3 linked regions of the Homo sapiens genome follow. The protein of the gene in region 1 interacts with the protein of each later gene in a pairwise test. Each region holds a gene or a part of one and is shown in the gene's direction. Other genes may lie near its edges.

The links.
Region 2: the proteins of TSPAN2 (region 1) and TSPAN31 interact in binary tests that used the Homo sapiens proteins (3 or more experiments, as listed by UniProt).
Region 3: the proteins of TSPAN2 (region 1) and RABGAP1L interact in a two-hybrid assay, tested with the Homo sapiens proteins (one large-scale study listed by BioGRID and IntAct).

The regions. Positions count from the first base shown.
Region 1 is NC_000001.11:115,079,405-115,083,055, reverse strand, and holds part of TSPAN2 (tetraspanin-2), read left to right. Parts: intron 1-3,651. UniProt on the Homo sapiens protein: May play a role in signalling in oligodendrocytes in the early stages of their terminal differentiation into myelin-forming glia and may also function in stabilizing the mature sheath.
Region 2 is NC_000012.12:57,743,581-57,747,896, forward strand, and holds the start of TSPAN31 (tetraspanin-31), read left to right. Parts: upstream 1-1,458; 5' UTR 1,459-1,574; coding exon 1,575-1,637; exon of another isoform or gene 1,638-1,651; intron 1,652-1,842; exon of another isoform or gene 1,843-1,859; intron 1,860-2,164; coding exon 2,165-2,332; intron 2,333-2,595; coding exon 2,596-2,676; intron 2,677-3,008; coding exon 3,009-3,140; intron 3,141-3,437; coding exon 3,438-3,551; intron 3,552-3,635; coding exon 3,636-3,710; 3' UTR 3,711-4,316.
Region 3 is NC_000001.11:174,221,911-174,225,561, forward strand, and holds part of RABGAP1L (rab GTPase-activating protein 1-like), read left to right. Parts: intron 1-3,651. UniProt on the Homo sapiens protein: GTP-hydrolysis activating protein (GAP) for small GTPase RAB22A, converting active RAB22A-GTP to the inactive form RAB22A-GDP. Plays a role in endocytosis and intracellular protein transport.

The DNA.
Region 1 (3,651 bases):
CCTTTTTCATCCTCTTTGAATTTGATTGGGAACAAAAATAACAATGCTTCAGTTTACGAAGTGCTTTCATATGCGTTATCCCACCTGATCATGAATCACAACAATCTCACGAAATAGTGTAATTATTCCCATTTTACAGTTGTGAAAGCTGAAAGTCAGGCACAGTAGGTGGTATGTCCCAGGTCTTCTGACTTTAAACCCCATGCTTTTTTCATTGTTTTAATTTATTGGAACGTGTAGAATATAAGGTATAAGAAATGCTGCTAACTTGGAAAATCTGAAGCCTGTGATCAGGGAGATTATATTCAGTGTCAGATTTAGTCTTGATGCATTCCAGAAACAGGTACAAAGAGATGCCTAAAAATACTAAGGCATATGGGAGAAGAAGCAGGAAGGAGAGAGGTTGGGAACACTGCTGATCAGTTTCAGGCAGAGGAAAAGTAACATGGAAATTGAGAAAGGGTATATATCAAGAGACAGTTTAAAAAGTTAATTTCAGGAGCAAAAACTTGAAGAATAGTAAGCACTATATAAATGTACACTATGTGCCAGCTGCTTTCCTAAGCATTTATTAACTAATTTAATCCTCACAACAACCCTATGAAATAGTAGCAGTTATCATCCCCAGTTTACATATGAGAAAACAGAGGTCTGAAGCATTGAAGAGACTTGAGAGCTGGCCAGTGGCAGAGCTGTGTCTCTATGTGTGTCCCCAGAGTCTGTACTCATAACCACTCCAAGTCTACAGACTATCGGAGAGGAAGGTTGAAGCTCTGACAAACTTGTGAATTCTAGACCTGCACTGTCCAATGCGGCGACTATGCTACTGATCACATGTAGCTATTTAAATTAATTAAAACTAAATAAAATGTAACCTTCATTTTCTCAGTCCCACTAGCTACATTTCAGAGCTCCATAGCCATAGGTGCCTAGTGGCCACAACGCTGGACAGCAGAGATATAGGACATTTACATCATTGGAGAAAGGTCTTCTTGACAGCCCTAGCCTAAATATAGTTATTCTTTCACTCATAAATATATCTATTCATATTTTTCTCTTATGGGGTCTTAAAAACATTAAAGAGAGGAGACATAGTTTCCACAAAAGGCTACTGACTTTCTAGTATAGAAGATTTAGAAAACCGAAAGGAATTCCAGCTGTCATGGAAAGAGGGAGTGTGGATCTAAAATAAAAATTAGTAGAGGACGGCTGCAGCAAACCACATTATTGGAACCATGGGAGCGATGTTTCCTATCTTGAAGATTAAGCTTTTGGTTTGAAGGTAACATTAGCAAGTCTACCAACATAATAGCACAAAGTGTGAGGCACTTACTGTTCTCAGTGTGTAACATGAACTCATTTAGTCTCTTTAGGAGGCACTATTATTACCTTCACTTTGCAGATGAGGAAGCTGGGGTTAGAGAGGTTAAGTGGCTTGCCCAAGATTATAGGACCAGTAAGTGCCAGAGTCTGATTCAAACCCAAATGCGTAGAACCCCCATTTTTATCCACTACAACTCCTTTACACCTACGTACCGTATGCACGCATGTGTTTATTACCCTAAGGGCATCATTATATATTCTGAACACCCAGAAGAGGTGAATTTCTAGAAGAACAGTTGGCAGATATTCCAGGATGTGTACCAAGCTCTGTCCTCCACATCGTAATGGTGATTGGGAAAGAGTCAGCTTATTAACAGGGGTGGCAGAGCAAGGCTGAGCAGGGCCAGGGGTGCATTGGAAGTTGCTGTCACTCATCCAGGAAGCCGACTTTGTCTCCCTGCTCCCGCCAGAGTCTATCTAGCCTTCTGTGAATGGACCAGTGCTGCACCTTCCTGACCTCAAACAGGTCCTGGTAAAATGGCTTTTAAGAAAAATCTCTATAGAGCACCAAGCTAGACTTTCACAATTTCTGCTAGATTCCACCCATGCTAACTTCTTAGTAAACAAATTGTTTTGGCTTTTCTAATCTAGCCTTAGTTCCATTTGAAACATTTTTTTAACCACTGTCATTCTGTAACAACTAAAACTGGATGAAGATCATTATTTATTGATCAATAATTAAGAATTGTTTATCTGCTCCAAAGTAGTTCTCCCAACCACTATAAATAAATATTGTTTAATGTGTTGTCTTTGCTTATGTAAAGCTCTATATAGATGAGATGTCACAGTAGTCATTGTGGCCTCCAAGATAAGTGATTATATATGCAGAGGGCAGGCCTAGGATGAGAGCCAGCTGGATGTTCCAAGGAGGAGGTCCGCTGAACCTAGAAAAGACCATTTTTTTCCTCTCCGGGCTTATCCCCTTGATGAGGTAAGTAAGGCAGACATTGAGTTCAGTTCACTTCTGTGACTTGGTAGACCAGATTTTAGTTCTGTACATATTTGATCTTCATTTGAGAAAGCCATCTGCTCCCTGGAATCCTTAGCCAGTAGTCTATGACATTTCATTTTGCTGTATAGTATAAAGAAGACTACATAGGCTGGGCATGGTGGCTCACACCTGTAATCCCAGCACTTTGGGAGGCTGAGGCAAGAGGATCACTTGTGCCCGGGAGTTCAAGACCAGTCTGGACAACAAAGTAAGGCCCCATCTCTACCAAAAAATAGAAAAAAATAGCTGGATGTGGTTGCACATGCTTGTAGTGGGAGGAGGAGGTGGGAGGATGGATTGAGCCTGGGAGGTCAAGACTGCAGTGAGCTGTGATCAGGCCACTGCACTCCAGCCTGGGCAACAGAGTAAGACCCTATCTCAAAAAAATAAAAAGCAAGAAAACTACACAGCCATCGTCTTTCTCCTAATTCTTGATGTTCCCTAATCTCCTTCTCCTTCTCCCTGTATTGTTAAGAGAAAAGACATTATGTATAATCACCAAATAAACAACACATTTTCCACTGTCTATATGTAAATTATCTGCTCTATCATTTGCAGCAAGCTTTTCATCCCAAGTTAGTTTCCTTCCCCTGAGCTTATATTTCTCCAGCACTTCTAAACTGCCCCCAGCAATGTTGGTTGACCCATGCAAGTTAACTTTATAACAATTTAAACAAACTGAAGGTGCATCTGGCACAAATGTATAGCCCAGTGTTCTTTGCAGAGATGAATGGAACACTCCTGATTTTATTGTGGCCTGAATTGCACCACCCTTCCATCACTGCAGAGAATTAAGCATTGGTCAATTATAAAATATACTCTTACCTGAAGGAAGTTTTTCTTACTGTGAGCTTTTTCTTAGGAAATGGCATGAGGAAAATAATGGGGAGATCAGAAACACTGGTACCTAAAGGAGCTGCCATGCATTTCCAGACTAACACAGCCTTCTCATCGCCACAGGCTGCCACAGTCCTGCCTCTCAGTTCCCACTCACCTGGTCCTGATGAAGGCCAAGGTAGTGAGGTCCTTCGGAGACCATTTGACATAGATGTCATATGGCATTCAATTCTTGTATTTTTTCTGATAAAACCCTTGATTTTGAAGAAATGCCATCTGAATCCTTGACTTGCTTTTACTGCATAACAGAATAAAAATCTTGGGAGCTGGTTTTCCTCTTTGAGAAAATTCAGATCATCTTCCAGAGCAAATGTGCTTCTGACTTTTGCCTGCTAAGAGGGTGAGACTCCATTACCCTTAAGGTATCATAATGGGGTTTA
Region 2 (4,316 bases), on another chromosome or scaffold:
GAGGTGAAGGTTGCAGTGAACTGAGATCGCGCCACTACACTCCAGCCTGGGCGACAGAGGGAGACTCTGTCTCAAAATAATAATAATGATAATAACTTAATTACCTTGTTTCAAGACCCAAACACCTCTCTCGCCCTGTCAAACATCTATTCTCCTGCATACCTTTTTGGTATTAATTTCTGTAAGAGTTTATATAAATACTGTGTAGTTAAAGATAAGGGAATTGAGGTTGGAATTGCCCACAGGAACCTGTAAAATGACCTGAAAAGTAATAACTAACATTGAGTGTTTACTATATGCCAGGTACTGTTCTAAGTATTCTACATATATTAACTCATTTAATTCTTACAACCCAAGAGGTAGGGTGTGTTGTTATTTATCCCCATTTTACAGATGAGGAAACACGCACAGACAGTTTCTAAGTGCCTGGCCAAAGGTTACGCAGCTAGGAAGTGGCAATCTGACTGTGGCAGTAAGTCTATAGAATCTAAGTACACACAAACTTAAATCATTCTGTTGAGTTGATTGGAGGGTTTTCTTTTTTGTTCCTACTGTTTCTTTCTCCTGGGGAAGAGAAGGATTATGCCTTTCCCTACCCCCGTGAGAAGGACGGTTTGTCAAAGCACTTACTAGATAATAAAGTTGTTGATCAGCCTACCCCCAAGTGAAAAGGTGGAGGCTCCTTCCACTTATATTTATGTAAATGAGACTCTTCCTCTTGCCTGCCGTTTTTTTGCAAGCCCTAGATCAGGCGTGTACTCTGAAAATGCTGAGCACACCCCTCTGTGCACTTGTGGCAATGCCACATACAGGAATGCGCTGGCCTGAGGCCGCTATTTCCACACTGAATTTCTGGTATATTCACACCCCTTTAGGAGGAGATATGGAACAGGACATGGGTACTAGAGGACACACAAACGTGTGATGATTTGCTGGGTGTTGCTGTGTCCAACCCGCGGACTCTGCGGCCGGGCTAAATAAGCTCAATATGTGGCTCCTTTGGGTGTTCCCGAGCGTGACGCAATAACAAAACAATGGCGTCATCGTGAGGTCACTGCAGAACAGGGGGAAGGGGGTGGGGAAGGGCCCTCCTTCTACGGGCGGAGCCCTTTTTGCCCAGCTCTCAGAGCGGCCCCCTACCCGCCCCTCCCGCCGTCTCCCCTTCACCTAAGTTCCTCCAGAGCCGTCTCCCTGGGAATTAGCCCTCTCCTAACTCCGACCACAGAAAGCTCAGCTTTCAACCTAAGCTTTTGGAGTTTAGGCTGTAGTCCCTAAGAGAGTCTCTAGAAACCCTGCCCCTAGTTTTAAGTTTCGCCCAATGAAAAAACAAAAGGAGAGGGACAGAAGGCGGGTCGGTGACGTAATGCGGGTTGATTGGCATGCAGGCCTTGGACGTCCAGGATTAGCCACGCATTTCGCCAATCCAGAGGCAGGGGAGGGACGGTGCAGGCGCAGAGTATTGGGTTTGGCTGGCCTCGATTTAAAGAGACAGAAGCTGTCGGGGTCCTGGAAGACGGTCCCCAATACCCTCCCCCCAAGTCCTTGGGACCACTTGGGTCCCCAGAGCTGGGGAGATGGTTTGTGGCGGCTTTGCCTGCTCCAAGAATGCGCTTTGCGCTCTCAACGTGGTCTACATGGTGAGGTTTTGGAGGTGGGGGAAGCTTCAAGGCGGAAAGGCCCCGTGGGGAGAATCTCTAGGGTACTTCCGGTGGGGAGAGGGGTGTATGGGGGTTCCGGGAAGATTCCCAGGAACTTCCGGCGACGAGGGAATTCCTGGGGACTTCCGTGGGAGAGAGGAGACTTCCGGTTGATTAAGGGGGTTTGTCTGAGGGTGGGGGAATGAACTGAAGGCCGTGGGCGTAAGTTCCATACCTCCTTCCTGTGAACCTCAGTTTCTTCCAAACTGGAAGTGATAGGATGATCCTGAGGGTTCATCTTTTGCATTCATACTACCATCCCTGCCACCCCCTCCCCGCCATCCTAGCCATTCTAACCTTTGGGAGTGCCTAGGGATGCTCCCGGTGCGGATAGCACCATCCCCAGCTCCCATTCACACACTATTCCATTATTCCTTCCCCCTGCCCCGCTCCCAAGTCCTCTTGTATGGCCTTGGGCTGTGCCGCATGCTAGAATTGTTGAGATGTATCCTGCTCTTTCTTCGTAGCTGGTGAGCTTGTTGCTCATTGGAGTGGCTGCTTGGGGCAAGGGCCTGGGTCTGGTGTCCAGCATCCACATCATCGGCGGAGTCATTGCTGTGGGAGTCTTCCTTCTCCTTATTGCAGTGGCTGGACTGGTGGGTGCTGTCAACCACCACCAAGTCCTGCTGTTCTTTGTATCCTGACCTGAAGTGATGGGGGCAACCGGGGGCTTGGGAGGGCTGTCATCTAAGGAAGATGTTAGAAGGGTAGGGGACCTCAGGGATCTTGGACACGTCTCCTTGCCCTGCCCTGTCCCATAATCTACGAAACAAGAGCTGATTTTATTGCTTTCAATTTGACATGGTGGTGTAAGTTCTATGAACAGATGAGACCAGACAGTTATTATAGATGAAACATAAAGGAATCTAGGACTTTTTTCCATAACCTTTCCTCTCAGTACATGATCATCCTTGGTTTGGTCTTCATCTTCCAATTTGTAATCTCTTGCTCATGTCTGGCTATTAACCGAAGCAAACAGGTAAGACAGTACCCTTTCAAGTACTTACTTGCTTTTTAAAATTTTCCTCTTAACCTCGAACTCCTTCCTTAGTCTGGCCCCAACTACCCAAAGATCATCCTTAGGTGCACTGCTTCTGGCCTCTTGGGCTATTTGCTTCCTCTGGGATGTCTGGTTAATTTTCCATGAGGATGATCTAGAGAACCTCAAAAGGTAGATATTTATCGTGTCTATAATTGTTGCACACCGTTATGCTTCTGTTTGACTTCCTTTGCTGGGCTAGGGAAATTGAGGCACTTGAACTGATAACAGGATGTAGGGAGACTTAATTTCCCTCTACCCATATCTTTCAGACAGATGTCATCAATGCTTCTTGGTGGGTCATGAGCAACAAGACTCGGGATGAACTGGAAAGAAGTTTTGATTGTTGTGGCTTATTCAACCTCACAACCCTGTATCAACAAGATTATGATTTCTGCACTGCAGTGAGTGTGTTGGGGGTGGTGCAGCAGCCAGGGGAGGTAGGAAACTGGGTAAGGACAATGCCCAAGTTGGCAAATTTAGTTTGAATGTCATTGTTTCTCTCTCTACAAGCCCTCTTGTATTGGGGCTGTGTTGGTGGGAGGTGGGGGTGGATAGAGGCTGGGGAATTAGCCAAGTAGGATTTTAGTTTGTAGGACACTGGTCAGATAACAGTAAAGTTTCTAGGGACATTCGGCATAGGTATTAGTCACTAGCAACTTTACATTCACAACTTTGCATTCTTCACGTTTTATCCTCAGATCTGCAAGAGCCAGAGCCCCACATGCCAGATGTGTGGAGAAAAGTTTCTTAAGCATTCAGACGAAGCCCTGAAAATCCTAGGGGGTGTTGGACTCTTCTTTAGCTTTACAGAGGTAACATTCTCCAGTTCCCTCACACACATCCTTTTTGAGACTGAGAATTAATTGATACTTATCTCTCTCCCTTTGTTCCTACAGATCCTTGGTGTTTGGCTAGCAATGAGATTTCGGAATCAGAAGGATCCTAGAGCCAACCCCAGTGCCTTTCTATGAGACTTTGGATCCTTCTGACTTTTCTTCTGCTCTCTCTAAGCTTTCTCTTCCTCCCTTAGGGAATATCTAGGGTCTGTAACCGTTTTGGTTTGAGAAAAAGGAAAGGCCCCTTGTCACATCCTCTAAAATTGATGGAATAGCAAGACTTTATGCCTTGACATATTTTAGTGGGAGCCAGACTATAAGGAATAAAAGGAAAAACTTTCTTCCTCTCTCTCCAAGAGGATATGGGAAGCTTCTGTGAGTGCATAGGATGGGGGCTGGAGTCATTCTTAGCTGTTTCCCTTCCTCTGTCCATATACTGGATCACCTCAACATACCCTGGTGTGGCTCTAAGGGTAAATCAGGGATAGGGCCAAGGAGAAAACAACCAAGAACTCTTTCCTGTAATAAGCAGGATCCAGTTTGAGAAAGTTTAGCGAATATAAAAGTAAAAGCCATTTAAAAATCTATATTCTTTTTTTTTTTTTGACACAGAGTCTTGCTCTGTTGCCCAGGCTGGAGTGCAATGGCATGATCTCGGCTCACCGCAACCTCTGCCTCCCGGGTTCAAGCGATCCTCCTGCCTCAGTCTCCCAAGTAGCTGGGATTACAGGTGTGCACCAC
Region 3 (3,651 bases), about 59 Mb from region 1:
ATCTCATTCTGTCATCCAGGCTGAAGTGCAGTGATGCTGTTCAGCCTTCTGAGTAGCTGGGTGTGTACCACCATGCCTAGCTAATTTTTTTTTTTTTTTTGTAGTGATGGGGTTTTGCCATGTTGACCAGGCCGGTCTTGAATTCCTGGCTTCAGGTGATCTGCCCACCTCAGCCTCCCAAAGTGTCGGGTTTACCAGTGCAAGCCATTGCACCCATCCCTGGCCTGTTTTACGGATTAAATAAAAGTTCTGAGTTTTACTCTGATTGGACCAGTGAAACCATTTTCTAGTAGTGAGGGAAATGACATGAACTGATAGCTGTAGGCCTGGGTTACATTCAAACCTGTAAATAAGTCACTCTGACAGAGGGGATGGGATTATCCTAATTGGCTTAGGAAACTCGTGATTCATTTCTGAACCAAATGAACCTTGGTACAGGGTAAGTATAGGTATAGCCAAACTGTTACACAATAGGGCTGTGATGCATTTATGTAGGGAATGTAATCACAGTGCCTTCCATGGCAAGGATGATTAAGCATTAGAAAAATCTTTCAGTGTGGTTTACCACATAAAGTGGTGAAGAGTGAAAAAGTATCAGTAGATAAAGAACAAGCACTGGATAAAATTTAAAATTTTACATGTATATGCACATGTAAAGTTCTTGGAAAACTTAGAAGGAAACTTGCTTAATCAAATATCTATCAAAGTCTTATGTTTTATGCTGAAATTTAAAATGCGTTACCATCAAGATATATTGAAACAGGAGCAGTTAGGGCATGATAGCTATCACCATAGCTCTTTGACGTTGTACTAAAGAATCCAGCCAATGCAAGATGACAGGAAAAAGAAATGAAGTGTGATTAGAAAAAAAGTGAAAAAATTCTCATGATTGGTAAAGTATTTAAGAAAGTGAATGGATAAGCTATTAGATTTAAAGACTTTTTGCCAGGCATGGTGGCTCATGCCTGTAATCCCAGCAATTTGGGAGGGTGAGGCGGGCAGATCACTTGAAGTCAGGAGTTTGAGACCAGCCTGGCCAACATGGCAAAACCCCGTCTCTATTAAAAATACAAAAATGGCTGGGCGGGGTGGCTCAAGCCTGTAATCCCACCACTTTGGGAGGCCAAGATGGGCAGGTCACGAGATCAGGAGTTCCAGACCAGCCTGGCTAATATAGTGAAACCCCGTCTCTACTAAAAATACAAAAATTAACTGGGTGTGGCAGCACATGCCTGTAGTCCCAGCTACTCAGGAGGCTGAGGCGAGAGAATCGCTTGAACCTGGGAGGCAGAGGTTGCAGTGAGCCAAGACTGCACCATTGCACTCCAGCCTGCGTGACAGTGAGACTCTGTCTAAAAAAAAAAAAAAAAAAAAAAAAAAAAATTAGCTGGGCAGGGTGGTGAACACTTGAAATTCCAGCTGCTCAGGAGGCTGAGACAGAAAAGTCACTTGAACCCAGGAGGTGGAGGTTGCAATGAACTGAGATCATGCCACTGCACTCCAACCTGGGCAACAGAGTGAGACTCCATCTCAAAAAAAAAAAAAAAAAAAAGATTTAACGACTTTTAGGAAGGTTAGCACCAACAGTAGAAAATAAAATTGCCATTCATAATACCAACAAAAATAATAGGTAACAAGGAAGAAACAAAAATTTATGTAAAATTTTAATAAAATTATAAAATGTTATTGAAGGAAATGAACACCTGAATGAATGGGGAGAGATGCCATGTTGATTGATAGGAGTCAACCTTGAAAAGATGTAACTTATCTCCAAATTAGTCTGTAACTTGGGTGGGAATTTCAAATTTTCAGTTATTTTTATAAACATTCTGAAATGTATCTGGACAAGTAGAGGTACACAGGTAGCTAAGAAAATTTTTAAAAAGAATATTATGTATTAAGATAGACTACAGAGTTACAGTGATTAAACCAATGTGATATTGGCTTGTTATAGAAGTGAATCACTAGAACAGGGTACCAGAAACAAACCTATGTATATAAAGGATTTCAGTATATGACAGAATTCGCTTCACATACCACTGGGGGAAATGGTAACTATGCAGTAAATAGTGTTGGGACAGTTGCATCTTTGAGTGCAATAAAATAAAATTAGGTTCCTTAGTTGTACATAAAAATTATTTTTAGTGAATCAGATATTTAAAGTGAGAAATAAGCCTGTAAGAAGAAAACAATGGAGCATATTTTTGTGATTGTCAAGGTAGGAAAAGCCAAATCACAAAAGGAAAAGATAGTTGCATATCATTATAGAAAAATTTAAGTCTGGCCTGGGCATGGTGGCTCACACCTGTAATCCCAGCACTTTGGGAGGCCAAGGTGGGTGGATTACTTGAGGTCAGGAGTTCAAGACCAGCCTGGCCAACATGGTGACACCCGGTGTCTACTAAAATACAAAAATTAGCCGGGCATGGTGGTTCATGCCTGTAATCCCAGCTGAGAATCTGGGCAGGAGAATGGCTTGAACCCAGGAGGCGGAGGTTGCAGTGAGCCAAGATTACACCACTGCACTCCAGCCTAGGCAGCAGAGTGAGACTCCATCTCAAAAAAAAATTTTAAATCTGAGTGCAAAAGACCATTTAGGTTATCTATTTCTTCTTGAGTGTACTTTGGTGTTTTCATCTTTCAAGTAATTGGTTAATTTCACCTAAGTATGGGGATAGAGTTGTTTCTCTGTTATAGAGTAATATTCTCTTATTATCCTTTTAATGTCTGCAGGATGTGTATTAATATCCTCTCATTCCTGATATTGACATGTATTACATATACATACATTGAAAAACCTACCAGTCTAATAATTTTGCTTTCAACAGCCATACGTATATTTCCTTGAGCACTTTAAAAATGCTTTTCCAGTGTCTTCTTGTCTCCATTGTTTCTGATAACAAATCTGAAGGGATTTGAATCATTGTTCTCCTATTTGTAATATGTTATTTTTCTTTGCTTTCAGTACTTTTATTTCATTGTTTTCAGCAGTTTGATTATCTGTGTGTGGTTTTCTTTGAGTTTATCTTTTTTTTTTGGATCACTGAGATTCTTGAATCTGTAAATTTATATCTTTAACCAAATTTGGGAGTTTTCACCCATTATTTCTTGGTAATTGTTTTGTTTCTACACTAATCTCTTTCTTTTCTGGGACTCAGTAGACAAAAATGGTAGACATTTCCATACCGTTCTCACAATTCCTTAGGCTCTTTTCATTGTTTTCCCTGTGTTCAAGCTCACTGACTTTTTACTTTGTTAATCTCCATTCTGCTATTGAGATCGTCTGATGAATTTTTAATTTTAGATATTGTATTTTTCTGTTTTTAAATTTACATTGTTTTTTAAAGTTTTTTTGTTTCTCTGTGGATAGTTTTGATATTTTTATTCATTACAGGTGTTTTCACGTTTATTTTATGGATTATTTATGGAGCAACTGGGACATCTTGGGATTGGTCTGTGGATTATTTTTTCACTTGAGAATAGATCACCCTTTTATGTTTGTTGAGTAATTGGCTTGTTCCCAGAGTTTTCGAATCTTATGTTTTGAGACTATTTCTTGTTAAAATCCTCTGAAGAATGTTGACTTTTTTTTTTTTTTTTTTTTTAAAGCAGACATTCCACCTGGTTGTGTCCAAACTGCAAGATCTGTCT